Regions from separate parts of the Homo sapiens genome. Here region 2 is linked to region 1. The links come from fine-mapping of genetic effects on gene expression. A gene starts in region 1. The other region holds a variant in brackets. All regions are shown on one strand. Distances are from middle to middle.

Region 1 (15,320 bases):
ATGAACCCGGGAGGCAGAGGTTGCGGTGAGCCGAGATTGAACCATTGCACTCCAACCTGGGCAACAGTGTGAGACTCTGTCTCCAAAAAAAAAAAAAAAAAAAAAAATCAAGGCCGGGGAGGGGGCAGGGGTGGCACAGCTATCGAGTTCTGTTCATCCTCTGTGAGATTACATCAGGAGGTGTAAAAGAACTCTAGAAGAATGAAGCTAAGTCCAGCTGATTCAGGGTTCAAGAAGGATTGAGGTGGGAGAGGCATCATGACCACTGGTGAGGAGTGGAGGAAGGCCGACACTGGAGCTTTCTTTGCCCAAGCAGAGGAGGGGTGTGACACTCTTGAGGACCAATGTAATGGCGCAGCTCCCTCTGGGAGGGGGAAAGGAGAGGACTGGAGGGGATGCTAAACTGACCTTCTAACCTTCAGGGGCCTGAGTCTGGTTGTCCTGGGTGGGGAGGGGCGCCTGCCTGAAACTGTTTTAGCCCAGAAGTCAGGCCTGAAGGTTAAAGGGCAAGGAGCTGGTGGATGAACAAGGTGGGGAAAGAGGCCCAGGGTCCACATCTACTGAGCTGGACTCAGGCATGGGAATTGGTGTTGTGAGGGCCAAGACACTTGGCCTCCTAAAAGTTTGCTGAAAATCACTGACATGAGAGTAATTGATTTATAGGAGAAAAGGTAGATAAATTTATTTAATATGTATATATGAGCACCTTTAGAATGAAGACCCAAAGATATAGGGGAAATTGCCAGTTATTTATTTATTTTTTTTGGAGATGGAGTCTCACTGTGTCTGCCAGGCTAGAGTGCAGTGGCATGATCTCGGCTCACTGCAACCTCCGCCTGCTGGGTTCAAGCAATTCTCCTGCCTCATCCTCCTGAGCAGCTGTGACTACAGGCACGCACCACCATGCCCGGCTAATTTTTTGTATTTTTTAGTAGAGACAGGGTTTCACCATGCTGGCCAGGCTGGTCTGGAACTCCTGACCTTGTGATCCGCCCGCCTTGGCCTCCCAGAGTGCTGGGATTATAGGCATGAGCCACCGCCCCCAGCCTGAAATCGCCAATTTTATGTTTATGTTTTACAAAGTATGGACAGCTGTGTAGAAATATGACTGGACAGAAGGGCATGCTCTAATGTTAACAGACTGAGTGGGGAAACCCAGGAAGGCCTGTTGAGATTCCTCCTGGCCTCTCTCATTCCTTCCTTCTGGGTATGGGGCAGGACCCTCTCTGGAATGGGGAGATCTTAGGACCTAAGTTAAATAAGGTAGGTCAGATAATTTTTTATGGCCAGTTTTTACATACAGTAATTTTAGGTTTTATGGCTGGCTTTGGGGAAAAGAGGTCCTGGTTTTTATAGCTGGCCTTGGGGGAGAATGGGACCCAGCAACAGGAGGACAGGAGAGGGTCAGAGAAAAACTTCTGCTTCTGAGGCTGCTACTGAGGCCTTCATTTTAGGGTATTGTCTTCTGAGCCCCAGCATTCCTCGGTGTGAAAAATTTTAAAGAAATTTTATAGTCCAGAAATTGAGTTGGTGAATTGTCTTATAAGCCATGGAACTAGTCTCTTAGTCCTGAGAATAGGCCAGTCTAGTTAAATAGTTATTAGTTGTGTCTAATTTTAGGCAGTGTGTTGCAGATGGGCTTCCACCAAAGCCAGGCCTCTATATGATATGAGTAATCAGTTATTTAGTAAGAGGCATTTTTGTCTCAAAAAATAAATAAATAAAAATATATGAATAAATGAATGTATGTTTCTTATCAGACTACGTCTGTTCTATCATTAATTCCAGAAGGGAGGAGGGTCTGGTTCCCCCTTCCCATCATGGCCTGACCTAGTTTTCAGGTTAATTTTAGAACACCCTTGGCTGTGAGGAGTGGTCCATTCGGATGGTTAGGGAGCTTTAGGATTTTACTTTTGGTTTACAAAGTAATGTGAATTAAACAGACATTTGAGTTAAAGTTTTTATTTTTTAATAAAATATTTGATTTAAGCATTTTTTTAACTGAATTAATTAGAGCTCTTTTATATATTTTGATAATGGAACATTACATACACAGGCACATATAAATATATAGACACATAAACAGAAGTAGAGCTTATAGATTTATACTTTTTTTTTTTTTTTTTTTTTTAATGAGACAGGTTCTCCTTCTGTCATCTAGGCTGGAGTGCAGTGGTGCCATCACAGCTCACTGCAGCCTTGACCTCCAAGGCTCAAGCAATCCTTCTACCTGACTGGCTAGCTGGGACTACAGGCGCGTGCCACCATGCCTGGCTAATTCGTGTATTTTTTGTAGATATGGGGAGTTTTACCATCTTGCCCAGGCTGGTCTTGAACTCCTGGGCTCAAGAAATTTTCCTAACTTGACCTCCCAAAGTGTTGGAATTACAGGCATGAGGCACTACGCCAGACCAGATTTTTTATTTGTCAGTTTCTAGGTAGTTTTCCCCAACTTCAGACTATCAATTTTTAAATTATCTGTTTTATGTCTTAATTATTAACTAGGCAACTCTAAACTTGTATCTCTAAGACATGACTTTTAGATGAAATAAGGTAGAAAATGTATATTTCAAAGGCATAGAATTTAGATCTAAATAAAGGTAAAGTTATCTAAATTTTAAGCCATTGTCTTTTCTATTCTAAAAGGTTTTGGAGGTTTGGGTGTAGAGAGGGAGATGCCTTTACAAATGGAATTTTTGTTGTTGTTTTTGTTTTGAGACGGAGTCTTGCTCTGTCACCCAGAGTCTCGCTCTGTCGCCCAGGCTGGAGTGCAGTGGCACGATCTCCGCTCACTGCAACCTCTGCCTCCCGGCTTCAAGTGATTCTCCCACCTCAACCTCCTGAGTAGTGGGGATTACAGCTGTGTGCCACCACGCCCAGCTAATTTTTGTATTTTTAGTAGAGACCGAGTTTCACCATGCTGGCCAGGCTGATCTCGAACTCCCAACCTCAGGTGATCCGCTCGCCTTGGCCTCCCAAAGTGCTGGGATAACAGGCATGAGCCACTGCACCTGGCCTTTTCTGAGTTTTTTAAGGAGTCTGAGTCATTAGAAGTCTTTTCTAGATTTTTTAAAAATGTGGTATTGAAGATGGCAAAGAGGAAGGAGGAATAGGGTGGAGTAAAAGTAAATGGGAGGATAGTTTTTAAGAAAGGAAGTGAATAGAGACATCAAACACATTTTAAAAAAAAGATTTTAGTCTACTGAACAAAATTTTTTAAAATAGGATTTAAAGAGAAAACACAGAAGGCTTTAAAAATATACACATAGCTTGAATATTAGCTTTTAATTAAGCTGACTTCTAACCATGGAGCTCTTTAACAAAAATTCTTTTAAATTTGTCTCTCTCCTCCTTTAAAACTTTTTGTAGAGATGGGGTTTCGCCCTGTTACCCAGGCTGGTCTCAAGTCCGGGCAACTTCTGGGCTAAAGTGATCTGCCTGTCTCGGCCTCCCAAGTGATAGGATTACAGGTGTGAGCCACTGCGACTCACCTTAAATCTCTTGTTACCAGATTTTAGTTGGGACAAATGCTGATATTTTAAAAGTCACATAAATATTAAGCCGAAAAGGACTGATTTCTGATTAGGAAGGAAACCCTAAGCCACGGTGGGAATTTTAATTATTAAACTGTAAAATGGAGCAGCCTCCATTGTTAATTTTGTATGGAATCCAAAGTGGCAGTTTGAGTGTAATTGTTTTAGGTCAGGTTTTTGTGCTTTAATTTAATCAAGACAATTGTTAAGGATAGCTGTGACACTATTATGTGTCCTTTTAATTTGATCTATCAATTCTTTAGAACAAGTAATTTTTTTAAATTTAGGAATTTTAGTCTAAAGGATTTATCTTTTGGCCATTGACAATTAGAATTTTTAATGGGGTATTTAATTCCAATAGCAACTTAATCCAAAGTTTTCTTTATGTCAAAGAAAACAGAAGCCCAGGAGGGATGAGACCTTGTAAGACAAAACTCCCCTAGGAGCTTGGAATGTTTGAAAATACATGTGTTGGGCTCCCAATCTTTTCATACTGGCTGTGATGTTACCTGAAAAATCACATCCTTTGGATGGTGGAGACCAAGCGGGAATATCCCCATCTAGTCACGTCATGCTCTCAAGGACATGAGACAAGAGGGAAACCTCTCACCCTGTTTTTATTTCAGGGACTGGCAGCAAAGTTTGTCATAACAGAAGTCAGCATAACCAGAACCACGAAACTGACCAGTTTGCAGGGCCAGTTCAAACAGTGGGTTGCAGGCCTGTTCTACCCTAGGGTACCCCTCCTTATGACAGAACACCAAAAGACAAGACAAAAACGAAGGAAAACGGCAACAACAAAAAAGCTATTTCTGAAAGGAAAATGGCAACAACAACAACAAAAGCTATTTCTGAAGGGAATGGGGTCAAACTATGAATACTTATACCACAAAGTACTAAAAAATATATCAGACTCACTATACCAAGGTTAGTCACACACAAAACCTGTTCTCTCATTAATCTTACATTTGGAAAGGAAAAGGGAAACAATGATTTTTACTGTCCACTCATCCAGAGTCCACAGAGAGAGGAAAACTGGAAAACTGGGAGTCTGGCAGGAAATTCTCACTCCTCTGCTGGCTTGCCAGGTTCCTGTATTTCCTTCTCTGTGGCTTCCAGAAAAGCACAATAGCTTTGGTGGTCTTATTTGTGATGCCAAACTGTGGTCTTGGCCCCCTAAAGTTTCAGTGAAAATCACTGACATGAAGCAGATTAATAGGGAAAAAGGCATACAAATTTATTAAATACGAATGGGAGCCTTTAGAATGAAGCCTTGAAGCTATAGGGGAAATTGTCTATTTTTATGTTTAGGTTTAACAAAGTATGGACAGCTGTGTAGAAATATGACTGGACAGAAAGGGCACGATCTAATGTTAACAGACTGAGTGGGGAAACCCAGCAAGGCCTGTCTGTTGAGATTCCTCCTAGCCTCTCTCATTCCTTCCTTCTGGTGTGGGGCAGGACCCTCTCTGGAATGGAGGTTTTATGACCTAAGTCAAATAACGTAGGTCAGATTTTTTTTTTTTTTTTTTTTTTTTTTTTTGAGCTGGAGTCTCTCTGTCAACAGGCTGGAGTGCAGTGGCGTGACCTTGGCTCACTGAAACCTCCGCCCCCTGGGTTCAAGCCATTCTCCTGCCTTAGCCTCCTGAGTAGCTGGGATTACAGGGGTGTGCCACCACGCCCAGCTAATTTTTGTATTTTTAGTACAGACAGGGTTTCACCTTGTTGGTCAGGCTGGTCTCAAATTCCTGACCTTGTGATCCACCTGCCTCGGCCTCCCAAAGTGCTAGGATTACAGGCGTGAGCCACTGTGCCCGGCCTTTTTTTTTTTTTTTTTTTTTTAGGAAGTTGTATTTTGGGCTTTTTAACTAGCTTGTTTTTTAATTAGATTATTGCCTTTAGGGTGGAGCCCTTTAATAAAAAGGGGGAAGAAAACATAGGTTTTAGGGCCTCATATTTAAATGGGTAAAGCAGGCATAGCTGGAAGGCAGAATACAGAACCCCCCTAATCAAGGATCTCATTTTTATATTGAATCCTAGGCCCCCCAAAAGAGGGAAATGTCATGGGACGAGATGTGTGGCATTTTTATCGAGTGCCCCACTGTAAAGATGCTCCCCCAAGGCTGGCAGGCAGCCCAGTGCCGATTAGCCCACTCTGTGCTTAGTCTTTTTTTTTTTTTTTTTTTTGAGGTGGAGTCTTGCTCTGTTGCCCAGGCTGGAGTGCAATGGCGTGATCTCGGCTCAATGCAATCTCTGTCTCGTGGGTTCAAGCGATTCTCCTGCCTCAGCCTCCCAAGTAGCTGAGATTACAGGCACCAGCCACTATGCTCAGCTAATTTTTTGTATTTTTAGTAGAGATGGGGTTTCAACATGTTGGCCAGGCTGGTCTCGAACTTCTGACCCCAAGTGATCCGCCCGCCTCGGCCTCCCAAAGTGCTGGGATTACAGGCGTGAGCCACCATGCCTGGCGTGCTTAGCCTATTTTTAATGGGAGTTTCATCCTCAATGGTGAGTGCTTTCATTGTCTTTAGGTGCCCCAGACCATGTTTTTAAAAATTTAAATGCACGAAGAAATAAGTAGCCCTGTATAGTAGTAATACTTTGTTGTGAATAACTGTCATAAGTCATCTCTAAAACTGTATTTTTTATCTAGTTATTATATATGACTAGCTATATGTCTAGTTTTTTAAATAATACAAAGTAATTTATTTTTGGCATCCTCAAAAACCAAAGAGATTAGGTAATGTAGTGTAGAAGAGAGCAGAGCTTTAGACCTGAGAAGAATCTGCCCATGACTCGTGAAACTCCACAACGAAAGTAGGAGACCCCAAAAAAGGGGTGAGTGTCATCTTTTCTGAATTTTTTTTTTTTTTTAGATGGAGTCTTGCTCTGCCACCAGGCTGGAGTGCAGTGGTGCAATCTCGGCTCAGCCTCCCGAGTAGCTAGGATTACAGGCACGCGCCACCATGACCAGCTAATTTTTGTATTTTTAGTAGAGACAGCGTTTCACCATGTTGGCCAGGATGGTCTCGATCTCTTGACCTCGTGATCCGCCCGCCTCGGCCTCCCAAAGTGCTGGGATTACAAGCGTGAGCCACTGCACTCGGCCGGTCAGATAATTTTTTTGGCCAGTTTTTACATAGAGTAATTTTAGGTTTTATGGCTGGCTTTGGGGCAAAGGGGTTCTGGTTTTTATAGCTGGTCTTGGGGGAGAATGGAACCGAGTGACAAGAGGACAAGAGAGGGTCAGAGAAAAACTTCTGCTTCTGAGGCGGCTATTGAGGCCTTCATTTTGGAGTATTGTCCTCTAAGCCCCAGCAGTGTCAAACTGTACACAAACCATACACAGCAGCCAGCTCGGGTGCTGTTAGGAAATGGTCTCACTGCTGGGTCTGTGGGGTATGTGTGTGTCTGGGTGTGTGGCTACTGTCTGCATCCTCCTCCCCCCTACAGCCTCCCCGCCTCCCCTCCAGCCACCCTGGGATTGGTGACTCTCAGCCCCTCCCCTCAGCTCCCCTAGACCCTCCCAGAGCCTTTATCAGGGAGCTGGGACTGAGTGACTGCAGCCTTCCTAGATCCCCTCCACTCGGTTTCTCTCTTTGCAGGAGCACCGGCAGCACCAGTGTGTGAGGGGAGCAGGCAGCGGTCCTAGCCAGTTCCTTGATCCTGCCAGACCACCCAGCCCCCGGCACAGAGCTGCTCCACAGGTAGGCAAGTGGGAGAATGCTGGATGGACCAGAGCTGGCACCAGGGGACAGGAGCCAGCGTCAGGAGGGAATAAAGCAGATGGCAGCCTCTGATAGGGGAGCAGGGGACTGGGAAGGTGAGCACAAAGCACCTGTAGGGCCGAGAGCTGGTTGGTGTTTGGAGCCTGTGGCTACAGACTCATTCTTTCATACCAGAAAGTTTTTGCCTAAGTCTTGGGATTATCTAGTACTGGAAAATAGCATCCAGGATCCCTCCTCCAGCTGACTGAGGAAACAGACCAGTCCATGTCCTACAAATCTATCATCTTTCTTGGGAGCTAGAGTCCTCCTGGCACCACTATAGCATTGCACATCTCCTGGGGAGATATCTGATGGGGTAGCAGGGAAACTAAGCCCAAGGGCTGTACCCCCTTCTCAGAAATACTTTCCACCCTCTCTCCAGACCAGGGCTTGGACAGTGGAGTTGGGGGCTGGGGAAGCAGGGTCAAGCCAAGCTGCTGGTAATGAATGTCTCTTGTGTCTTCACCCATGCTGTATCTTCCTCTTCTCTCCTTTACCTGAGTCCTGTCCCTTTGCTCTCCCAGGCACCATGAGGATCATGCTGCTATTCACAGCCATCCTGGCCTTCAGCCTAGCTCAGAGCTTTGGGGCTGTCTGTAAGGAGCCACAGGAGGAGGTGGTTCCTGGCGGGGGCCGCAGCAAGGTAAGTCTCCCCTGGCAGAGTACTGGGGACATCACGGGAACTTGGGACTCTGCCTGTCTGGACAGCTGTAGTGAGGAAACTGGGGTGGGGGGGTTGTCCGTCAGAGGGCATTTTGCCTCCCTTTGGATTTCTTTGTTTCTCTGGTCCTTTCATGTTCCCACTGTCTCCAGGTGTGTTTGTGTCTCTGTATCTCTGCATGTCTTTGACACCTTGTACATAAAAGGTGCCCTACAAATATGTTGTTTGGTGGGTTGATTGATGGGAGACTTGGTGATTGGATGGTACTGTGAGGGGTGAGCTAGGGTGGTCTAAGGCTCTCTATAGTCTACCTCAGGTCCCTTTGCAAGGGACAGATCTCTTCTATTTCCTGGATGGTATGAAACAGTCAGAATTTCTTTCCCAAATGGTTATTTGTGTGCTATTTTACCTATCAGTTATGTGTATTGTTTTATTTTCAAAATGCAAATAAATTCCCTTATCTTTTGCTCATCCACCCCCAGTAACCTCAGGTGCTTCTAAGATCCCAACCCCTTCCTTCTTCTCTTTTCTCCCTTGCCCGCCTCTATCCTCTGCTTAGTCAGGATAGGAAAACAACAACAGCAAAAAAACCAGATTGAGCCTCGATTTCCACAGTTCCTTTACGAAAAAGAATAGGAATTGTCAGGGTAGGGGTACAGGGGGAGGATAGGGAGGAAGTCTTTTCAAGGTTTTGAAATGACAGCAATTACATCGGTACAAATGCTTTTAAGATGATTGCGGGTGGGACTTATTACAAATTCAATGTGTGAAGTTTAACTGCCTCTTCAGCTCAAATCTGTTCAGCATCTCATTATAGGAGGTGGGCAGAGTATTCAACAATTTGGGAAAAGTGGCTGCCTGAACACCACATGCTGGGCCAAGGGAGTTATCACCAGGGCAGCCTTGCAGGTGGCAGCAGTTGTGCCATATCCAAAAGGCCAGAACCGTTAAAAAAAAAAACACCCAGGGGAGTGCCAAGTATGGGCTGGACACCGTTTGGAGCCACAAAGTTCCAGCCCAGGATAGTTAGAGTATCTGAGTTCTTCTGAGACAAACTTGTTTCAAGACCTTGGCCAATGAGATGTCCCCTCTGCCCCTCTTGGTCAATGAATGAGAGGGATTGCCATCCTACCCCTTCTCCTTGAGAGTCTGTGAGGATGAGGGAAATTGGGGCAGGAAGAGGGTAGTACATAGGTGTGCCTAGGCAACTGGGTTGGTATGTGTGGGGGTGTGTTCTGTGTAAATGCACTTCTGTGTGTGCACAACAGCCGAAGGATGCCTGGGTTCTGGAAAGAGAGGCGCTGCTGAGACTTGAGATTTGAGATGAAAATCTCCAGCCATGATCATTGTTATTGTCTCTCTGCAGCTGCAATTAACTGGCTGTGTGGTGTGTGCCCACCACCCTGCTGTACGCAAGTTGCTAAAAAAAAAAAAAAAATCACAGGGACAATCAAGAGCCCGTGCTGGGCAACAGCTCTAGAACTTGGGATTCAGTTGTGGAGAGAAGAAGACGTGCCTTCTGAGCATGTTGCCTTCCTGGAATTCTAGACCTAGGGCCAAAAGGGAGAGGGAGAGAAAACTAGAGGCGGAAAGCCATGGAGAATAGAGAAAGAGGTGGTGGAAAACAGGGAGAGAAACATCCATGGACATCGTGCAGAGTGGGGGAATCACAGGTGCAGATGTGTGCCTCCAATCTCACCATGCATGTGAATCACCTGGGGGGCTGCTTAAAATGCAGATTCTGTCTCAGGAGGTCTGGGGTAGGAACAAGAGTCTGCATTTCTAACAGGCTCTGTGTAGTGCTGGTGTTGCTGTTGGTCCACAGGTCACTCCTGGAGCACCTACTTCTCGTCCAGTGTGAACCAGAGGAAACTCTGAAAGAAATAGGGTGTCGGATTCAGGATGGGCTCAGGAAGAGGCTGTTTCTTGTGGGAAAAGGATGAGTGGATCCGGGTGGGAGCCTCCTGCCTCACCCCTCTTTGTTTCTTCCCTAGAGGGATCCAGATCTCTACCAGCTGCTCCAGAGACTCTTCAAAAGCCACTCATCTCTGGAGGGATTGCTCAAAGCCCTGAGCCAGGCTAGCACAGGTAGGAGGCGGCCCTAGGGGAGAGGGGAATGAGGGGCAGGATTCTGAAGATAAGAGGCCTGGGAGATCCTTTCAGATGGGAGAGAGATGGGGGATAGCTTAGTGAATCGGTGAGGGTTGTGATCTGAACCCCGCTCTCATCACTTTCCAACTTCACTCCCCATTTAGACATCTGTTCTTGGTTTCACAGATCCTAAGGAATCAACATCTCCCGAGAAACGTAAGTACCCTCTTCTCCCTCCCTATCTCTTGCCACTTGCCCAGAGCTCTGTGGGGCATTGGGCCCAGGGGCCATTTTGTCCAGCCCCTTCTCACCTGGTACAAACAATATGCCAGCTCCCACTGCTCAGCCAACCTTTCCTGAAAGGGAGAGGCCATCCAGAACTAGGAGGAAGCTGGTGTGAGGGGCATGGTGGGCTCTCCCTCTGCTGGCTGGTCCTTGGAAAACAAGGGGATCTCTTCGTGGCCCTGAAAATTCCAAATCAGGCACCTGCTAGAGCAGAAAATTCTTGAAATGTGGAGGAAGGAAAGGTGAGCAGAGAGAGTGGGTTTAGGGGAGGCACTTGCTAACTGTGAGGAGTCATGCTTTGACAAGAAAAAGGAACAGAGACCAGAAACCCAGTCTCAGAAGTGTTGACCCATGTCTGGGGAGATGCTTCACTTTCTCATCATCACTGCTGACAATGTTGGCCCTTTTCTGCAGGTGACATGCATGACTTCTTTGTGGGACTTATGGGCAAGAGGAGCGTCCAGCCAGGTAGGAGTGTGTGGAGGTACAGTGGAAGGGCTTAGGGTACTGGCAGAGTATGACAGAAGTCACGTGCCTCATATTTGTCACCAGAGGGAAAGACAGGACCTTTCTTACCTTCAGTGAGGGTTCCTCGGCCCCTTCATCCCAATCAGCTTGGATCCACAGGAAAGTCTTCCCTGGGAACAGAGGAGCAGAGACCTTTATAAGGTAGTCCTGTTGCAGCTGGGAGGAAGGATAGGGAGACTCTGCTTCCACCCCAGTCTCCCAACTCTGTCTTTGAACACTGCCCGTCATAGCCAGCCCTTTGCTGTTGGATCAGGGTGTAGTTCACATTCAGAAAGATCCCTCTTACTTACACTGTTCGCTTTACCCTAGACTCTCCTACGGATGTGAATCAAGAGAACGTCCCCAGCTTTGGCATCCTCAAGTATCCCCCGAGAGCAGAATAGGGTAAGGATTGTTCATTAGAGAGGGGAGAGGGGACTGGGGAGGGGGCTGTGGGGGTTGCCAGCTGTGCATTTCCTCCCATGCTACAGGTATTAAAGCTCATAGATTTGCCCTGAAATACACTGCCAATGCCCAGCACACTGTCGGCCAAACACAAAGACACTTAGAGGCACGTGTGTTTGTACACATCCCCCGTCTTTCATCTCTTTCCTCTGGATCATGGACGGCAGCTGACTATTGAGCAGGAGTGAGTGTTGGGAGATGAGGAGAGAGGGGCTTCCCCGATGGGCAATTTCTGTTGTTTGGACTTCATTCTTTTGTAATCTATGCAAAAAGATGGAGAAATTATTATCTGATAATTACAAATACCACAACCAATTCACAGGCAAGCATTTGCCTCCCAGGCAGGCTGAGCCTTTCAAATCACTCAGAATCCTGGGTTACGGGGCCCAGAAGGTAGTCATACACAAGGATGATTCAGGAAGAAATGCAAGGAACTCTGAAATCTAATGGGGATTAGCAGGAAACCATATCTGAATCTCTCTTTAGCATAATGAATAAGAACAATGGCCTGAATGTGAATCCTGGATCTGCCACTCTATCTGTATCTTTTTGGCCAAGGTACATATCCTCCTGTGCTTCAGTTTCCTCATCTGAAAAATGAAAGTGATAATAGTATCTCACAGGGTTGTGGTTTTGAGGATTGAGTATAGGTAAAGTGTTCAGAACAGTGCCGGGTGCACAGTGCTGTGTGCCAATTTTATGATAATTGTCCCAGTTTGGGAGGTATGGGGGATGTCCTAATGTTTCCCCTGACTGGCTCTGTCTGGACCCCAGGCCTGAGTGGGCTGACAAATTCCTCACTTGGTATGCGAGTGTAAGAGTCCCCCAGGGAAGTGTCTAGTCAAAACACGAACCTTCCGCCTTGACACTGTCTTCCCACACACAGCAAGAGCAGCTCCACCAATGGCTTTCTTTTCACTAGCTTCCAAAGAATTGGGGTGGAGGGAGTGAAAAGGAGAGGGAGAGAGATTGGGAAGGCTCGTAATCATGGAGAGCCTCCTGCTTTTCTCTCTGTGTCCCTGTTACCCATACTCACTGGTCTCAAGGTGGCACGCCCAAGACCCAAGGAGCTGGTGCTTGATGATGCTGCCTGTGCATGAATTCCTGGGACCAGAGACTGAGTCTGGCCCCCCATTTAGTGTTGGGTGAGAGGGCACAAAGAGCTATAATAACTGTAACTTGCTGATTACATGGTAGTTACTGTATCATTTTGCTCTCATTAGATGGTTATTTCAGTCCTGCCGACGGCCAGATAATTATACGAGCAGCTATATCTGGATGACATACTCTGCTCCAGCGTTATGCACTGGCCATAAAGATAATTACAGTGCAATTTTGCTATAGTATTTTATACAAATGGCAAAAACAAGTGCATTGTGGAAATCTACTTTTAATGCTTGTTTGTGCATCCAGGCTCTTTCAGAGGGACCCATAATTGCAGCTTTCATAATCTTACCATTGAGGGAGCATTCCCAACCTGTTAGGTGTCAGGCAGAATAGGACATAAGGTTTCTGGGAGCTGGCATTTAAAGATTAGATGAGATGGATCAACACAGATCATTGTGTCATCTGATTTCATTCATGTGAAACTGTAAGTAATCCCTGGGCCTGTGCTTCCTCTGGGAGGTTTCTGGGAAGAGGAGGAACTGGATAAGGCAGGGGGAGCATTCATAGTAGGGCACCTTGGGCAGGGCTGTGTGTGTGTCTGGCTCATGGTGGTGCTAGGATGGCATGAACTTGGTTCCTACATCTTTGGTCCACATGGGCCCCACTGGCCATGCACACAGGTGTGTAGAGTAATGTAAATATGGCAGCTGGGAAGGTGCAAGTACCTGCGGCTAGGAGAGTTCCATCCTCAGGCCCAAAGCCTGGAGGGCAGGCTGAGGGTCAAGACTTGTTCTTTCCTCTCTCACAGACGCCTCTCCCCTTCTCTCCTGCTGCCACAGCAGGTTTTCAGTGGGACTTTTTTACAGGATATAAGATGTGATTTCAGTGTTTTTTTTTGTTTTGTTTTGTTTTTTGTCCTCAGTACTCCACTTCCGGACTCCTGGACTGCATTAGGAAGACCTCTTTCCCTGTCCCAATCCCCAGGTGCGCACGCTCCTGTTACCCTTTCTCTTCCCTGTTCTTGTAACATTCTTGTGCTTTGACTCCTTCTCCATCTTTTCTACCTGACCCTGGTGTGGAAACTGCATAGTGAATATCCCCAACCCCAATGGGCATTGACTGTAGAATACCCTAGAGTTCCTGTAGTGTCCTACATTAAAAATATAATGTCTCTCTCTATTCCTCAACAATAAAGGATTTTTGCATATGAATGATGTGGTGTGTGTGTTTACTTGTTTGGTTGGTGGGTTTTTCTGTTCCTTGACTCCTCCAGCTACATGGTAAATACACACATACTTATGATACACACACTTCATATTTAAATGTAAATAACTTTACATATCTTTTTGTATATATCTATTTCCTGAACAGTGCCTTACACAGTGCTTTGCACGATGAGTATCAGATTTATTTAGTGATTAAAATAAATACACGAATTTGGAAGATGGTTTCTAACACACAAAGATTTTTACAGACCAGTTTTAGATAAAGAAAAAACAGGCCGGGCCCGGTGGCTCACGCCTGTAATCCCAGCACTTTGGGAGGCCGAGGCGGGTGGATCACGAGGTCAGGAGGTCGAGACCAGCCTGACCAACATGGTGAAACCCCTTCTCTACTAAAAATACAAAAATTAGCCAGGCATGGTGGCGCATGCCTGTAATTCCAGCTACTTGGGAGGCTGAGGCAGGAGAATCGTTTGAACCCAGGAGGCAGGGGTTGCAGTGAGCCGAGATCACGCCACTGCACTCCAGCCTGGGCAACAAGAGCAAAAAACTCCGTCTCAAAACAAAACAAACAAACAAAAAAAACAATAAAAAAAGAAAAAGAAAAAGAAAAAAAATATTCAGAATGACTTGTATTACTAGGATGGGTCTGGGAGATATTCATTCCTGAATCTGACCCTACTTAATTAGAGAAGGAGGTGGGGATCAAGGCTGTCCGGAGACCCAGCCACAGAGGAGGACAAATCTATGACCCTATACAATTTTTTTGTCTCCAAATGCTGAGCCTGGGTTCTGTGACAGATCCTGGGGATGAAATGATGACTCATACACAGAGTTTACAGTTTAGCAGGGCTGTGGACAAGCAAACAGAACTTGATCCAGCTAGGATGGGATGTGGACAGGGAAGTTACTACCGAGGCCAAGAAAGAGAGGAGCAGATATCTTCACCGTTAACTGGCTGCCTTAGTTATTATAAAGGGAAAACATTTATCTCCCACTCCTCTCTAAAGTGCCTGTTACCAGCTCCTGCAGCTCTGACTTAACAGTCCCCAGAATGTGTAAGGCACTTACATGTGGTATGCATGGGTATGGATGTCTTTTACTAATCTATGATGTCAACTATCACCCGCCATCCTAAGGGGGGTTCTGTACCCTAATGGAACAGCCAGTGAAATCCTCAGGCTCCTTATCTTAGCGTGGTACAGGGGCCTTTGTTATGCCCCTGAATTGCACTGATAAAACATCAACACATAGATTTCCCAAGGCAGTGTAAGGACAGGGCCACAGAGCCAGAGGCCACTTCCTGCAGTCCTTTCATTCTAGTGAAAATTCTATCTTCCTACAGCCTGACTTGGGGCCACTTTGGAATGACAGCTGTATAGTGGGGGGCGGGGAAAGGAGGGAATACTCACCCTAGTATTACTTATGTCAGCTTTATAGCCAGAGGTCAAAGAATGCCCCCACCCCAGAGCCTAGACCCTTTTTCCAGTGAGTCATCTCTTTGACTTTTCAAAATTATCTATCTATAGGGCTTAAAACTGGGGACACTTTTGCAGAGTCTAGGGGCTTTCTCTGGGTCATGAAAGCTACAAGAGTTGGTTCTGCTCAGACTTGGTGGGAGTTAGGCTTATAGGCTGAGATGAGACAATTGCTTTGCAAGTAGGAACATTAAGTGCAGAAA
Region 2 (15,320 bases), 72 kb after region 1:
GCCCACCTTCCTGGTGGATGCCATTATGTACTGGGTCTCTCCAAGCCCGGCCAAGGCTCTATGAAGCTAAGGTTGGATGCATGGTTGCATGGATTTGGGGTGTGCTATGAGGGGTGGTGTATCCTTGGGAGAGATATAAAGTGGAGGGAGGGAGCCGTCCGGTCAGTAGGGCACCAATCCCACCTCCTTCATTACCTCCTGGCCATGATTCTCCTGGGAGATAATTCTGCTCTCTGGAGATGTTGGTAGGAAAGTTTCAAGTTACGCAGCTGAGAAACAGGGACCAAATAGTGCTCCTGGGTGCATTGTCACCGTGGGTGGCCACTCAAGGGTCCAAGCCTCTAGGGCCATCCTTGGGCTAACAACTGGGGTGGGTGTGAGCAGGTGGAAGGAGCCTCAGCCCATGCCATTACCTCCTGCTTCCTTATCAGGCTGTGTGTTAATTCTGGGCCAGTCTACACCCTCCCACGGGGTGGAAATGGCCTGGAGGATGTGAGGGCACCCCTCCTCTGAAGATCCCTGTACACGTGGTGTTGGGACTGGAACCATTATGCGGCCCCATAGGCCTCAGGAGTCATCCCAGAAGCAGTGGCTGGGAGGTGGTGTCCTAAGTAAGGATCTGTGCAGAGGACAAATAAATCAGTTTTTGATTTGTCTTGAAAGCATGGACTTCCTTTGACTCTTTTGATGTTGAAAAAGTTGATAGTTTCACCCATGTGCAGTGATTTGAATGTTCTTGTGAAGCTCCACTTGGATTCCAGACACATGAGATTGCAATCCCTCTCTGAGTCTGGGTTCCCACCTTTGCTCAGCACCCAGAGTCACTCCATCCAGAAAGTCAGGTCACTGTCAGCCTCCCTAGGACTAGAAGTCAAAGGCAGAAAAGAGTGAACAGGAATAGATCTCCTCCTAATATTGAATTTTCTGCTAGAAGGAGAACAAGATCCCAATGGGGAAGTCTGATCTTAGAGGCAAAGAAAGGGGAAAAAGGAAAATGGGGATGGGAACTCCCAAGCTGCTGGGAGGGAGTAATGGAGTGACTTACACAAGAGGGTGTCAAGAGTTTTTACACTTTCACTCCTGAAGATGTCCTTTCCCTAGATTTGGGTGGCCTTGGGGAGCAGTGGCAGGAAGAGGCAGGTACCTTCCTGAATATCAGGGGATGAGAGGCATGGCCTGAGAATGGATTTGAAGAGAGAAGTTGGACTATCCCTGCCCTCTCCCAGCCCTTGTTGCCACCAAGGTGAGGGGCAATTGTTTTCTTTCCAGGGGGTTCTGGAGTAGCCTGTGGTCACAGAAATAGACCCAAGGACAAGACAGCAAGGCGACCTCAACAGCCATATTGACAGGCAGGCCTCAGATCCCTTCCCTGGGGCAACTGAAGCCTCCTCCCCTCACCCGTGCCCTCTCTGTGTCCCTTAGTGACGGACCCTCACTTTAAAGTCATTGCACTTTCCCTGTGTCATCCCTCAGGTCCCCCACCATATCCCAACACACCCACCCCTCCAGTGACAGGGAGTGAGAGTCACTGCTGGACTCATCTTTCATATTTTCTCTCCCTTTGTTGAGCCCCTGCTGTGTACTGGAGAGAAATTCCCTTGAATGACCTGGTCCTCATCCTCAATGTCTTCAGTTTTCTGATGATGTCGCAAGTGTGGACTCAACACAGAAAGCATTAGGGGAAAGGGGTGTAGAATCCTGGACTCAACACAAATTGTAGTTGGGAGGTAACTCCCCAGGATTCTCATTTTTCTTTCTTCAGGATAAAAGTCTAGGTCTAGGATATGGAGCCTTTAGGAAGCCCCATGTTGTTTAACAAATCAGTATTTATTGTAGAAACAGAGATTGAGGTCAGATGTTGCAGGGCCACTGAATTTAAAACACGCAATGAGGCATGGTGACTCATGCCCGTAATCCTAGCACTTTGGTAGGCTGAGGTGGGTTGATTACCTGAGCTCAGGAGTTAGGGACCAGCCTGGGCAATATGGTGAAACCCGGTCTCTATTAAAAATACAAAAAATTAGCTGGGTGTGTTGGTGTATGCCTGTGTTACAGCTACTTGGGAGGCTGAGGTAAGTGGATCACTTGAGCCTGGGAGACGAAGGTTGCAGTGAGCTGAGATTGTGCAACTGCACTCCAACCTGGGTGATAGAGTGAGACCCCCATCTCAAAAAAAAAAAAACAAAATAAAACAAACAAGCAAATGAAACACACACAGTGAGGAGCAGGTGGAGATAAATGGCAGAGTAGAAGGCTTCACGGATCATTCTCTCTTCCCCACCCCACACCAAGACACCAAGTTAACAATTGTCTCCGTATCAAAAAACACCTTCATAAGAACCAATAATCAGGTGATGATAACTCTTTAACCTGGTTTTAACCTCATATTGCTGAAAGAGGCACTGAAGAGATAGAAAAAAACAGTCGTGAATCACAGACCCTACCGCTCTCCAAACCCTGGCAGTGGAGGCACAGTGCTGAGAGCATCTCTGGGTGCTGCGGGAGGGAGAACACAGCAATTGTGAGGCACTGAACTCAGTGCTATCCTGTTAGAGCAGGAAGAAAAACCAGACCAAAGTCAGCTGATGCCCATCCATGGAGGGAGCATTTAAACCAGCCCTAGCTACAGGGGAATCACCGATCCCAGCAGTCCTGAGTGCCCACAAACCTCGATACCAAGGGCTACAATGCTCCATGTCTCCAAATAAACTTACATGGCAGTCTAGGCCATAAGAACTGCAACTCATAGGTGAGGCCTAGTGCCACAGGGGAGTCTCTGATCACAGCAAACCTAACTTGAGTGCCCGCAAACCTCGCCACCAAGGGCTACAATGCTCTGTGTCTCCAAGTAAACTTGAAAGGCAGTCTAGGCCATAAGGACTGCCCCTCATAGGCTAGGGGTAGTGCAGAACTAGGCCCAGAGGCACTGGATTAGGGGGACACATGACATATTGAGACGCAAGCTGGGGCAGCAAAGGGGAATGTTTGTATCACCCCTCCCCTAACCCCAGGCTGCACAGCTTGATGTTCCAAAGGAGACCCCTTTCTTCCACTTGAGGAGAGGAGAGAGAAGAAGAGTGGGGAGGATTTTATCATGCATCTTGGATACCAGCTCAGCCACAGCAAGATAGGGCAATGATCAGAGTCAGGAGGCCCTCATTTCAATCCCTAGCTCCCATATGACATTTCTAGACAGACCCTGGGCCAGAAGGCAACCCAGTGCTTTCAAAGAAAGGACCCAGTGCTGGCAGCATTCATCACCTTCTATCTGAGGAGACCTTGGGCCCCAAATAACCAGCACTGATGGGCAGTTACTACACTGAGGACCTTGGGTGAGCCTCTGAGACTTGCTGGCTTCAGGTGAGACTCAGGACATTCCCAGCTGTGGTGGCTATGGAGAGAGACACCTTCTGTTTGAGAAAAGTGGAAGGAAAAGTAAAGGAGACTTTGTCTTGCACCTTAGGTGCCAGCATGGCCACAGTGGAGTGGAGCACCAAGCAGACTATTGTGGTTTGTGATTCCAGGACTTGACTCTTGGATGGCACTTTCTGGACCCACCCTGGGCCAATGGGGAGCCCACTGACATGAATGGTGTGTCCCAGGCCAGGCAGCATTCACCACAAGCTGACTTAAGAGATCTTGGGCTTTAAGGGAATATTGATGGGAGTCTAGCGGTACTCCATGTGGCTTGGGGTGGTGGTGACTATGAGGTCAGGCTCCTCTGTCTTTGGACAAGGAAGAGAAAAGCAGGAAGGATTTGTTGTGTGGAGTGAGTGCCAGCTCAGCTGCAATCCAACAGGACACCAGGTACATTTCTAAGGTTTTTGACTCTAGTCCTTGATTCCTGCACAGCACTTCTGGAACCACACGGAGACTGGGGGACATCACTGCTCTGACAGAAGGACACAGGCCTAACTAGCTTTGTTATCTGCTGATTGTAGAGCCCTTGGGCTTGAGCAAACATAGGCAGTAGCCAGGGCCTTACAACAGGCCTTGAGTGAGACCCAGCACTGTGGTGGCTTCACGTCTGACCCAATGCAGTCATAGTGGTGGTGACACAGGGGTGCTTGTGTCACTCCACCCCCAGCTTTAGCTATCTCAGAACAAACACACACAGAGTTACTCTGTATGTATGGGAGAAAGTAAGGGAAGAGAACAAGAGTCTCTGCCTGATAATCCAGAGAATTCTCTCAGATCTTGTCCCAAACATCAGGGTGGTACATCTACGAGGTTCTGCAAGAACCATAGAATTACTGGGTGTGGGGTGCCCCCTAGAGCAGATACGGATTAGATCACAACACTGAAGTCTTTCCAAATATTTGGTAAGTCTTACAAGAAGGATGACTACAAATAAGCCCAGACAGTGAAGACTACAATAAATACATAACTCTTCAATGCCCAGATACCAAAGAACATCTACTAGCATCAAAACCATGCAGGAAAACACGGCCATGCCAAATGAACTAAATAAGGGACCAGGGACCAATCCTGGAGAAACAGATATGGGGCCTTTCAAACAGAAAATTTAAAATAGCTGTGTTGAGGAAACTCAAGGAAATTCAAGGTAATATAGAGAAGAAATTTAGAATTCTATCAGAAAATTTTAACAAAGAGTTTGAAATAATTAAAAAGAATCATACAGAAATTCTGGAGCTGAAAAATGCAATTGGCATATTCAAGAATGCATCAGAGTCCCTTAACAGCAGAATTGATAAAGCAGAAGAAAGAATTAGTGAACCTGAAGACAGGCCAGTTGAAAACACATAGAGGAGATAAAAGAAAAAATAATAAAAAGCAATGAAGCATGCCTTCAGGATCTAGAAAACAGACTTAAAAGGGCGATTCTAAGAGTTATGGGCCTTAATGAGGAGGTAGAGAAAGAGAATATGGGGTAGAAAGTTTATTCAAAGGGATAATAACAGAGGACTTCCCAAACCTAGAGAAAGATATCAGTATGGAAGTACAGGAAGGTAATAGAACACCAAGCAGATTTAACCCAAAGATAGTAATCAAACTCCCAAAGGCCAAGGGTAGAGAAAGGACCCTAAAAGCAGCAAGAGGAAAGAAATGAATAACATACAATGGAGCTCCAACACATCTGGCACCAGATTTTCAGTGGAAACCTTACAGGCCAGGAGAGAGTGGCATAATATATTTAAAGTGCTAAAGAAAAAATCTTTTAGCCTATAATAGTATAATAGTATATGTGGTGAAAATGTCCTTCAAGCGTAAAGGAGAAAGAAAGACATTCCTGGACAAACAAAAGCTTGTACCATTGTACAAGAAGTGCTAAAGGGAGTACTTTAGTAAGAAAGAAAAGGACATTAATGAGCAATACATAGTACCTGAAGGTACAAACCTCACCGGTAGTAGCAAGTACCCAGAAAAACACAGAATATTATGACATTGTAACTGTGGTGTGTAAACTACTCTTATGCTAAGTAGAAAGATTAAATGATGAACTAATCAAAAAAAGTAACTGAAACAACTTTTCAAGACATAGTCAGTACAATAAGCTATAAACAGAAACAACAAAAAGTTAAAAAGTTGGGGAACAAAGTTAAGGTGTAGAGTTTTTATTAATTTTCTTTGAGCTTGTTTGTTTATGCAAATAATGTTAAGTTGTTATCAGGTTAAAATAATGGGTTATAAGATAGTATTTGCAAGCCTCATGGTAATCTCAAGCCAAAAAACATACGATGGATGCACAAAAAATAAAAAGCAAGAAACTAAATCATATCTCCAGAGAAGAACATCTTCACTAGAAAAAAACAAGAAGGAAAGAAAGAAGGAAAGGAAGTTCATAAAACAACCAGAAAACAAATAACAAAATGGTAGGAGTAAGTCCTTACCCATCAATAATAACATTGAATGTAAGTATCCTAGACTGACCAATCAAAAGACATAGACTGGCTGAATGGATGAAAAACCAAGACCCATTGATCTGTTGCCTGCAGAAGAAACACTTCACCTATGAAGACAAACATAGACTGAAAATAAAGGGATGGAAAAAGATATTTCTTGCCAATGGAAACCAAAAAGAGCAGGAGTTTTATCTCAGATAAAATAGATTTCAAAGAAGGTCACTATATAATGGTAAAGGGGTCAATTCAGCAAGAGGATAAAAGAATAATTTTAAATATGTAATATATGCACCCAACACAGAAGCACCCAGATAGATAAAGGGAATACTATTAGAGTTAAAGAGAGAAATAGGTCCCAATGCAATAATAGCTGGAGACTCCAACACTCCACTTTCAGCATTGGACAGATCTTCCAGACAGAAGAATCAACAGGGAAACATCAGAATGAATCTGCACTGTAGACCAAATGGATCCAATAGATATTTACAGAACATCTCTTCCAATGGCTGCAGAATACACATTCTTTTCCTCAGCACATGGATCATTCTCAAAGATAGACCCCATGTTAGATCACAAAAGAAGTCTTAAAACATTGAAAAAAATGAAATAATATCAAACATCTTCTCTGACCACAATAGAATGAAACTGGAAATAAGAATAATAATTTTGGAAACTACACAAATACATAGAAATTTTAAAATATGCTCCTGAGAGACCAGTGTGGGTCAATGAAGAAATTAAGAAGAAAATTGAAAAATTTCTAAAAACAAATGATAATAGAAACCCAGCATACCAAAACCTATGTGATACAACAAAAGCAGAACTAAGAGGGAAATTTATCGCTATAAGTGCCTACATCAAGAAAAAAAAAGGAAAACTTCAAATGAATAATCTAACAATGTATCTTAAAGAACTAGAAAAGCAAGAGCAAACCAAACTCAAAATTAGTCGAAGAAAAGAAATAATAAAGATCAGAGCAGAAACAAATGAAATTGAAATAAAAAAAAACTTAACATAAGATCAATGAAACAAAAAGTTGCAATTTTAAAGTTAAACAAAATTGACAAATCTTTAATCAGACTAAGCAAAAATACAAAAAAAATAGAAGAAGATCCAAATAAATAAAGTCAGAAATGGAAAAGGAGACATTACAACTGGTACTGCAGAAATTCAAAGGATCACTAGTGGCTACTAGGAGCAATTATATGCAAATAAATTGGAAAATCTAGAATAAATAGACAAATGCCTAGATGCATACAACCTACTGAGATTGAGCCAGAAAGCAATTTAAAACCTTATTATTTAAAACCAATAACAAGTAATGAGATTGAAGCTGCAATAAAATGTCTGCCAGTAAAGAAAAGCCTGGGACCTGATGGCCTCACTGCTGAATTCTACCAAACATTTCAAGAATAACTAACACCAATCATACTCAAACTATTCCAAAAAATAGATGAGGAGGGAATACTTTCAAACTCATTCTATGTGGCCAGCATTACACTGATACCAAAACCAGACAAAGTCACATCAGAAAAAGACTATGGGCCAATATCTCTTATAAATTTTGATGCAAAAATTCTCAACAAAATACTAGCAAACCAAATTCAACAATACATTAGAAAGATAGTTCATCATGATGAATAGGATTTATCCCTTGCATGAAAGGATAATTCAACATACCAAATCAATCAATATAATATATCATATCAACAGAATGAAGCATAAAAGCCACATGATCATTTCAATCAATATTGAAAAGCATTTGATACAATTCAACATCTAGTCATGATAAAAACCCTCAAAAAACTGGGGATAGAAGGAACACACTAATCTCAAGATAATAAAAGCCATATACAACAGGCCAACAGCTAGTATCATACTGAATGGGGAAAAACTGAAAGCCTTTCTTCTAAGATCTGGAACATGACAAGGATGGCCACCATCACTACTATTATTCAACATTGTACTGGAAGTCCTAGCTAAAGCAATTAGACAAGAATAAGATATAAAGGGCATCCAAATTAAAAAGGAAGAAGGCAAATTATTTTTGTTTGTAGACGATATCATCGTATATTTGGAAAACCCTAAAGACTCCACAAGGAAACTATAAGAACTTATAAACAAATTCAGTAAAGTTGTAAGATGCAAAATCAGCATAAAAAATCAGTAGCATTTCTATATGCCAACAACGAACAACATGAAAAAGAAATTTAAAAAGTAATCCCATTTACAATAGCCACAAATAAAACTGAATACGTATGAATTAACTTAATC[AAAG/G]AAGTGAAAGATCTCTATAATGAAAACTATAAAACACTGAGGAGAAACATTGAAGAGGACACCAAAAACTGGAAAAATAGCCATGTTCATGGATTGGAAGAATCAACACAATATTATTAAAATGGCCATACTACCCAAAACAATGTACAGATTCAATGAAATCATTATCAAAATACCAACGACATTTTTTACAGACATAGAAAAGTAATCTAGGCTGGTGTTGATTGTCTGGCTTTTCCAGGTGCACACTGCAAGCTCTCAGTGGATCTACCATTCTGGGGTCTGGAGGATGGTGGCCCTCTTCTCACAGCTCTGCTAAGCAGTGCCCCAGCACCCCACATTTCCCTTCCACACTGTCCTAGCAGAGGTTCTCCATGAGAGACCTGCCCCTGCAGCAAACTTCTGCCTGGACATCCAGGCATTTGCATACATGCTGTGAAATCTAGGCAAAGGTACCCAAACCCCAATTCTTGACTTCTGTGCACTGGCAGGCTCAACACCATGTGGAAGCTGCCAAGGCTTGAGGCTTGCACCCTCTGAAGCCACAGCCTGAGCTCTACATTGGCCCCTTTCAGCTGTGGCTGCAGCAGCTGGGATACAGGGCACCAAGTCCCTAGGCTGCATACAGCACGGGGACCCTGGGCCTGGCCCATGAGACCACTTTTTCCTCCTAGGCCTCCTGGCCTATGATGGGAGAGGCTTCCGTGAAGACCTCTGACATGCCCTGGAGACATTTTCCCCATTGTCTTGGGGATTAACATTTGGCTTCTTCTTCCTTAGGCAAATTTCTGTAGCCAGCTTGGATTTCTCCTCAGAAAATGAGATTTTCTTTTCTATTGCATTGTCAGGCTGCAAATTTTGTGAACTTTTATGATCTTTTTCTCTTTTAAAACTGAATGCCTTAACAGCACCCAAATCACCTCTTGAATGCTTTGCTGCTTAGAAATTTCTTCTGCCAGATACCCTAAATCATCTCTCTCAAGTTCAGAGTTCCACAGATCTCTAGGGCAGGGGCAAAATACTGCCAGTCTCTCTGCTAAAATGTAATGAATCACCTTTGCTCCAGTTCCCAACAAGTTCCTCATCTCCATCTGAGAGAACCTCAGCCTGGATTTCATTGTCAATGTCATTATCAGCATTTTGGTCAAAGCCATTCAACAAGTCTCTAGAAAGTTCCAAATTTTCCCACATTTTCCTGTCTTCTTCTGAGCCCTCCAAACTGTTCCAACCTTTGCCTGTTACCCAGTTCCAAAGTAGCTTCCACATTTTGGGTGGCCTTAGAGAGCAGTGGCAGGAAGAGGCAGGTGCCTTCCTGGAGGCCAGGGATGAGAGGCATGACCTGAGAATGGATTTGAAGAGGAAAGTTATCCCTGCCTTCTCCCAGCCATTCTTGCCACCGAGATGAGGAGGAATTGTTTTCTTTCCATGGATGCTGGAGTAACCTCAGGTCACAGAAATAGACCTAAGGACGAGCCAGCAAGGAGATGTCAATAGGCACTGACAGGCCCCAGGTCCCTTCCCTGGGACAACTGAGTCCTCTCCCCCTCACCTGTGCCTTCTGTGGCCCTCAGTGACTGACCCTCACTTAAAAGTCATTGCACTTTTCCTGTGCCATCTCTCAGGTCCTCCACCATATCCCAACACACCCCCTCCTCCAGTGGCAGGGAAAGGAATGGAGACTTGGAACCCACAGGAAGGAAACACCCAGGGCTGCTGGGAGGGGGAATGGAAGGACTTCCACAGTGCCCCCATGGGATCCTTCACTCCTTCTGCCCCAAAAAACTATTATAGCAGGAGACGATCTGTTCCTGTCCACTCTTTCGGCTTCTCCTTCTCATCCTAGACAGCCTGACCATGACCCAGTTTTCTGAGGAGTGATTGATTCTGGGTGCTGAGCGGGATGAGGAATCTCAGGCTCAGAGAGGGATTTCCACCTAATGTGGCTGGAAACCATATGTAGCTTCCCAATAAGGTCTTTCTGTGCTCAGAAGGTCATGGACCAGAAGTGTCAGTACAGCAGCTTTGTAGAGACAGTTCTGACCCTTGTACTTAGAGCAGAGGGGTGTGTTTGCTATGGAGAGTGTGTGGGGGCTGCTGTGTGTAAGCCTGTGTCAATACACGTTTGCACCCACATAAACATCTGTGTGGGCACAGCAATGCAGAGAGAAATTTGTGGACTAGGGAAGCATTGCTGAGTCATAGTAGTTTCCTACTGGGCAGGACTTGGGGTTTGCAACTGCATGCATGAGTACTTGCAAAGGCAGTTCAAAATAGTAGAGAGATGAAGCCAGGATAAAAAAAAATGTTGCAGAAAGACAGTGATCAGGGAGGAAAGTGAAGACTTTCTGCCAAAATGCCTGAGGGCTTCTCTGCCTACCTCAGCCCTCTGTGTTCTTAAATCCTCCTGTCTGAACAGAGGCCAGACTCTCATTTCACCCCAGCCTACCTGGGTCTGTCCTCTGCAAAGCCATGTGGCTCTACCTGGTGGTCCTCCAGGGCCTGTACTACCTTCTGTGCTCATACTGGGAGAGGCAGGTGGTGAGCCAGCTGAGAGACACATAGTGTTCATCATGAGCTGTGACTCACGCTTCAGGAAGCTACTGGCCAGACAACTGAATGCACAGGCTTGCGGGAGCTGCATGTAGGACAGAGAAGGGGACCAAGCAGCTGAGGGGCCAGACTTCAGACAGGCTGGAGACGGTGACCATGGACATCACCAAGACAGAGAGCATTGCTGCAGCTGCCCAGTGGGTGAAGGAGTGTGTGGGGGACAGAGGGACCACCTCAATCCCTCCTAGTGCCTGTTTGTTTCTCTTCTCTCTGTGTCACTAGGGGAGACCTAGTGTCTGCTAACTGGGAACATTTCCAGGACTTTTATTTTCGGGGGCTTGAGCTTTCTGCTTTCCAAAGCAGAAGTCCTAGAGTGGTTGTGGCTGGGCCCAGGGTTAGAGGAGTCCAGGCTGTGGTTAGAGCCCAGTCTCTGGATAACGTTGGGTCCTGACGGTTGGCATGAGACCATCGGGGATGGGGCTGGGCAGGATCCAGGCTTCTGATCTCAGCATTCTCTTACTGGTTCCTTCACACTTGTCCCTGTTGAGGGCTTTAAGATGATCTCCGCTTGATTCACGAGGACACTGGGGCTTGGAGAGCTGAAGGGACTTCACATCAAACACCGAGTGATGAATCCTGTTCCTTTTGGGGAAAGGGAGATCATTGATTGCTTTGTTCTGATTGTAAATGGAAAACATGAAGAAATTATAGAAGAGGATAAGATTGGATAGATAGGAGGATAAGATAGGATTTCTCATTGGAGAAATCATAGAAGAGGATGAGAGTGAAACAACATTCCCCCTAATCCCAGCCTCCAGGGTTAATTTCCCTCTACTTTACACATTCTGGGGTCAGCATTTTCATCATCAAGTTTCTTCCCCAACATAACAATCAAGGTCTCCATATTCCAGCATGTGGAGAGGCCATAATTTGTTAAAGGGATTCTATATTGTTGAATGCCGAAGTTTGTTACCCACTTTTCCTGGCATAAATAACATCTCAGTAGCGATTCTCTACCAAGGTTTGTTGACAGGCTTAGCAGTGCTATTCAAGAAAAGTACAACTATTGAATCAAAGAATCCTCATTCCTTCAAGTCCAGGAAAGGTTTCTGAGTAGGGGAAGGGCCACCATTGCAGGCCTTATTGTTTTTCCAATATTCCTAGGGTCAGTCTCCGTCTCCTGTACCCCCCAGCCCTCACCCACTCACACCCCTGCCCCTGCTGGCCTGGAGTCCGTAGTTCTGTAGCTCTGACTGCTCCAGATCTTTCATGCTATTAGTTTGCTCCCCTATGTCTTCTGTAGAGTCTTCCCCAAAGCTTGCTGGACCCTATGGGGATAGGGCAGAGGTGGCCTTATGAGATGGTGGGAGGAAAAGGTGGTACTTCCTGGGGCAGAGAGTGCAGTCTGGACACCTGTGTGGCATGAGACCTCTTTCCTTCCTCCCCTCCTGCTCTGGCCATTCAGTCCACAGTGAGCTTTGGGACTCCCAGGTACACAAGGTGACCTTTTCTTCCAGGACAGATATTGCCTTGACATTGATGCAGGTTGTAGCACAGCTTGTCCCCTGATGCCCAGTGCAGGCCTGCTCTCTAACTTCCCCCAGTCTTAGGATTTAAGTGTATCTCTCTTAACCAGGATGCAGAAAGCAATTATTTATGTGTTTTTCTTATTCTTTCCTTCCATTTTCCTTTCTCTTCTGTCCTTTCCCCTTGGTTTCTCTGTCTTACCCCATTCCTGTCTTCCTGTTTTCCTGTCTCTGTCTCTCTCCCTTGGAGAGATATTTGTTGGGTCCTGGAGGCATGGGGAGAGCATCTGAGTCCATACAATATACTCTTGTGGCCCTTGGAAGAGTACCCAATAAACTCAGCCTAGGACAACAACAGGGTTTTGGCCCTGACCTAAAAGCTCTGACACCTGAGAGAGGAGCAAGAGAGCCAGAACCATTGTTGCCAGTTCTCATAGGGGTTGTGACCCAGTCAGCCCTGGTGGCCATGGCAGCCTCCTAAGCTGGGGAGGGTCCTGGCAGTGGGATCTGAGCTGGAGATTGAGGATCCCCACCTGGCAGCCTTGAACAGAAATGGGGGAATGACTTTTGTCTTCAGCCCAGACCTAGGGGGAGCCTCAGCTGCCTGCCTGTGCTGTGGGGTCCTCATGAGGTGAAGCACAGGGCCAGGCCTGTGGAGGAGGCTGGGCAGGTGGGTTCATATGGGCTCGTGGAGGCCCTGGACAGGAGCTGTGCCTCATGCTGTTGGCAGTGGAACCCCCAAAGAAGGGATTTGCTCAGGGGAGCTCTTTGGTCTAATCGGCTTCTAGACACCCACTTACTGCAGGGAGCCCAGTGGCTGTGAGTGTGGGGAGCCAGACTGAAGGCAGAGGGACGCTCCTTAGAGGACAGCTGCCATCACCCAGCTCAGAGGCCAGGGAGATTCCTGGGGCAGGAGAAGAAGGGAGGGGACTGAGGACTGCAGAGGAGGTAGAATGTGGGAATTCTGGTGATCCATTGGATGTGAGGGGCATAGGAGGTGATAGCACTGAGATGCTGCCTTGCTCTTGAATTGGTAGGACTTAGGGCTAGTAAGCTTTGGTATGTAAAATATGGAAACCCCAGAGAGAGGCAAGGCCACCATCATAACTTTTATCTGCTATCTGCTGCCCTTCCCAACTCTCCAAGCTTTCTTGCATCTCCCACTGTCGTTGCATGCTGGGTTTGTATTGGGTTTCTTTGTTTTTTGTATTTTGCCTCCCAAAATTTCTTAAGTCCTTGCCCTTCTGCATGTCTGCCATGCAGGAGGGAGCTCTCCCACTTTGGAGTGAAGGTGTCTGTGATTGAACCTGGTCACTTCAGGACCAGTATGGCCGGCTCTGAGAGGCATTTACAGAACCTCAAGGAGCTGTCGGACTAGGCCAGCCCCGAGGTCAAGGAGACGTATGGGGAGAAGTTTCTGATATCCCGTGAGTGAGCTGTGGACAGTGGGGAGATAAAGAAATCCTTGTCTAGAAGTCTGGGTCCATCATTAGTGCCTCCAACAGTATGAGAATCTGTCCTCCAAACTCTGCCTCCCCAAAAAAGTGAGGACATTTATCCCCATTCCCAGGGTGCCATGTGGTCAACTGTTCACCTAAAGGAAGCATCCAAGCTTTCTATAATTGGGACCACTGCCTCATCTGAATCCCTCATTATTTTGAAGAGGAAACTAAAGTCAGAGACAGTGGCTACCAGTGGGCTCATGGGCAGCTGGGTTTAGAGATAGCTGATTTTCATATTCTTAGGCTGTTAGTAGAGACCTTCCATTTATGAGTCCAGATATCTCAAAAAGAGAGGCAGAGGGGGCTTAGAGTGAAACGGATGTTCCTTGGGTGAAGGTTGGGGCACTCTCTGGGGAATATGGATGGATTAGACTTGAGGCATATCATTTGGGGGGCCTGGAATTCTTAGACACTGTCCTCCTAATTCAGAGCTCTAAATGGGAGGGAAGGGATGTGCTAGTACTTTAAGGATCTTTCCTCATCCTTAACATGCATCAGAAAAGCATCTAGAAGGCTTTGGGCAAAATGCAGTACGAATCTATCCTTGTTGACCCACTGCATGGAGCGCTCACTACTCAGCTGGCTGAGACACCAATCTTCTCTACCTCCCCATGAGCGACATGCCTACCTTCCTATGGACGTCACGCTCAACTGGGGCTCTCCAAGGCTGGCTAAGCCCCTGTGAATCCAAGACTGGGGTGCATGGTTGGGTGGAGCTGGGTGATCTGGGTGAGGTGATGTGTCTTGGGGAGAGTAATGGTGTGGTGGGAGGGAGCACTCTTGCCATTTGGATGCCTATCCCAGCTTCTTCCTCATGCCCTCCACAGAATTCCACTGAGATATCACTCAGGACTGGCAACATAGGAGGAAAGAACCAAGGTGTTCTTCTAAAGATTGGGACCCAGTAACGCTCATAGGTGTCCTGTTGCCTTTGAGTCTCTTGGCCAATTCTGAGGAGTCTACACAATGGGAGCGTGTGAGGAGGGGAAGGATCCACAGCCCACACCTTCTCTGCCTCCTGCTTCTTCCCCAGGTGTGCATCAACCTGGCCAGTCTATTACACTCTCTCCATGATGGAAATGGCCTGGAGGAAGTGGATGGGGGCTCCTCTGAATATACCTGTGGATAAGGTGTGGGGCGACAGGGCAGCCATCAGCCTGACCCCTAGACCTCAGGTGCCAGCTCTGGGGGCATTGGCTGGCAGTGGTGTTCTCGATAGGGATTCTGACAGAGGACACAGGAACCAATGTTTGACCCTCTTAAAACCATTGGCTGGCAGTGGTGTTCTCAATAGGGATTCGGACAGAGGACACAGGAACCAATGTTTGACCCTCTTGAAACCATGACCCTCAAAAAACCATCTGGTTACTTTAGTTCTAGAGCAAAAGCTAAAAAGTGCAGCCATGTGCAGCAAGTTGCCTTCTAGTCTGAGGGGAGCATGGGCTGTGAACAAGAGGGAGGAGGAGGCAGGTGCCTTCATGGGGATCTGGGGATAAGAGGGATGAACTCAGGAGGAAATTGAAGAGAGAAGTTGGATTATCCCTGCCCTGTCTCAGCCCTTTCTGCCACCAAGGTGAGGGGCAATTGTTTCCTTTCCAGGA

What was found.
Region 2: its variant is fine-mapped to the expression of TAC3 in whole blood (INTERVAL, PIP 0.92).

Annotation. Positions count from the first base shown.
Region 1 is chr12:57,008,307-57,023,626 of GRCh38, reverse strand. TAC3 (tachykinin precursor 3) reads left to right here and starts at 7,098. Exons shown (of 7, transcript NM_013251.4): 1 at 7,098-7,240; 2 at 7,825-7,943; 3 at 9,956-10,049; 4 at 10,239-10,268; 5 at 10,752-10,805; 6 at 11,175-11,249; 7 at 13,339-13,627. The coding sequence starts at 7,830. The coding sequence ends at 11,248.
Region 2 is chr12:56,936,773-56,952,092 of GRCh38, reverse strand. RDH16 (retinol dehydrogenase 16) reads left to right here. Exons shown (of 4, transcript NM_003708.5): 4 at 1-662. The coding sequence ends at 64. It also overlaps the pseudogene LOC100420982. Among named protein-coding and RNA genes, the nearest start is that of SDR9C7, 10 kb to the right of the region's middle. The variant AAAG/G (reference allele first, on the strand shown) is at 8,139.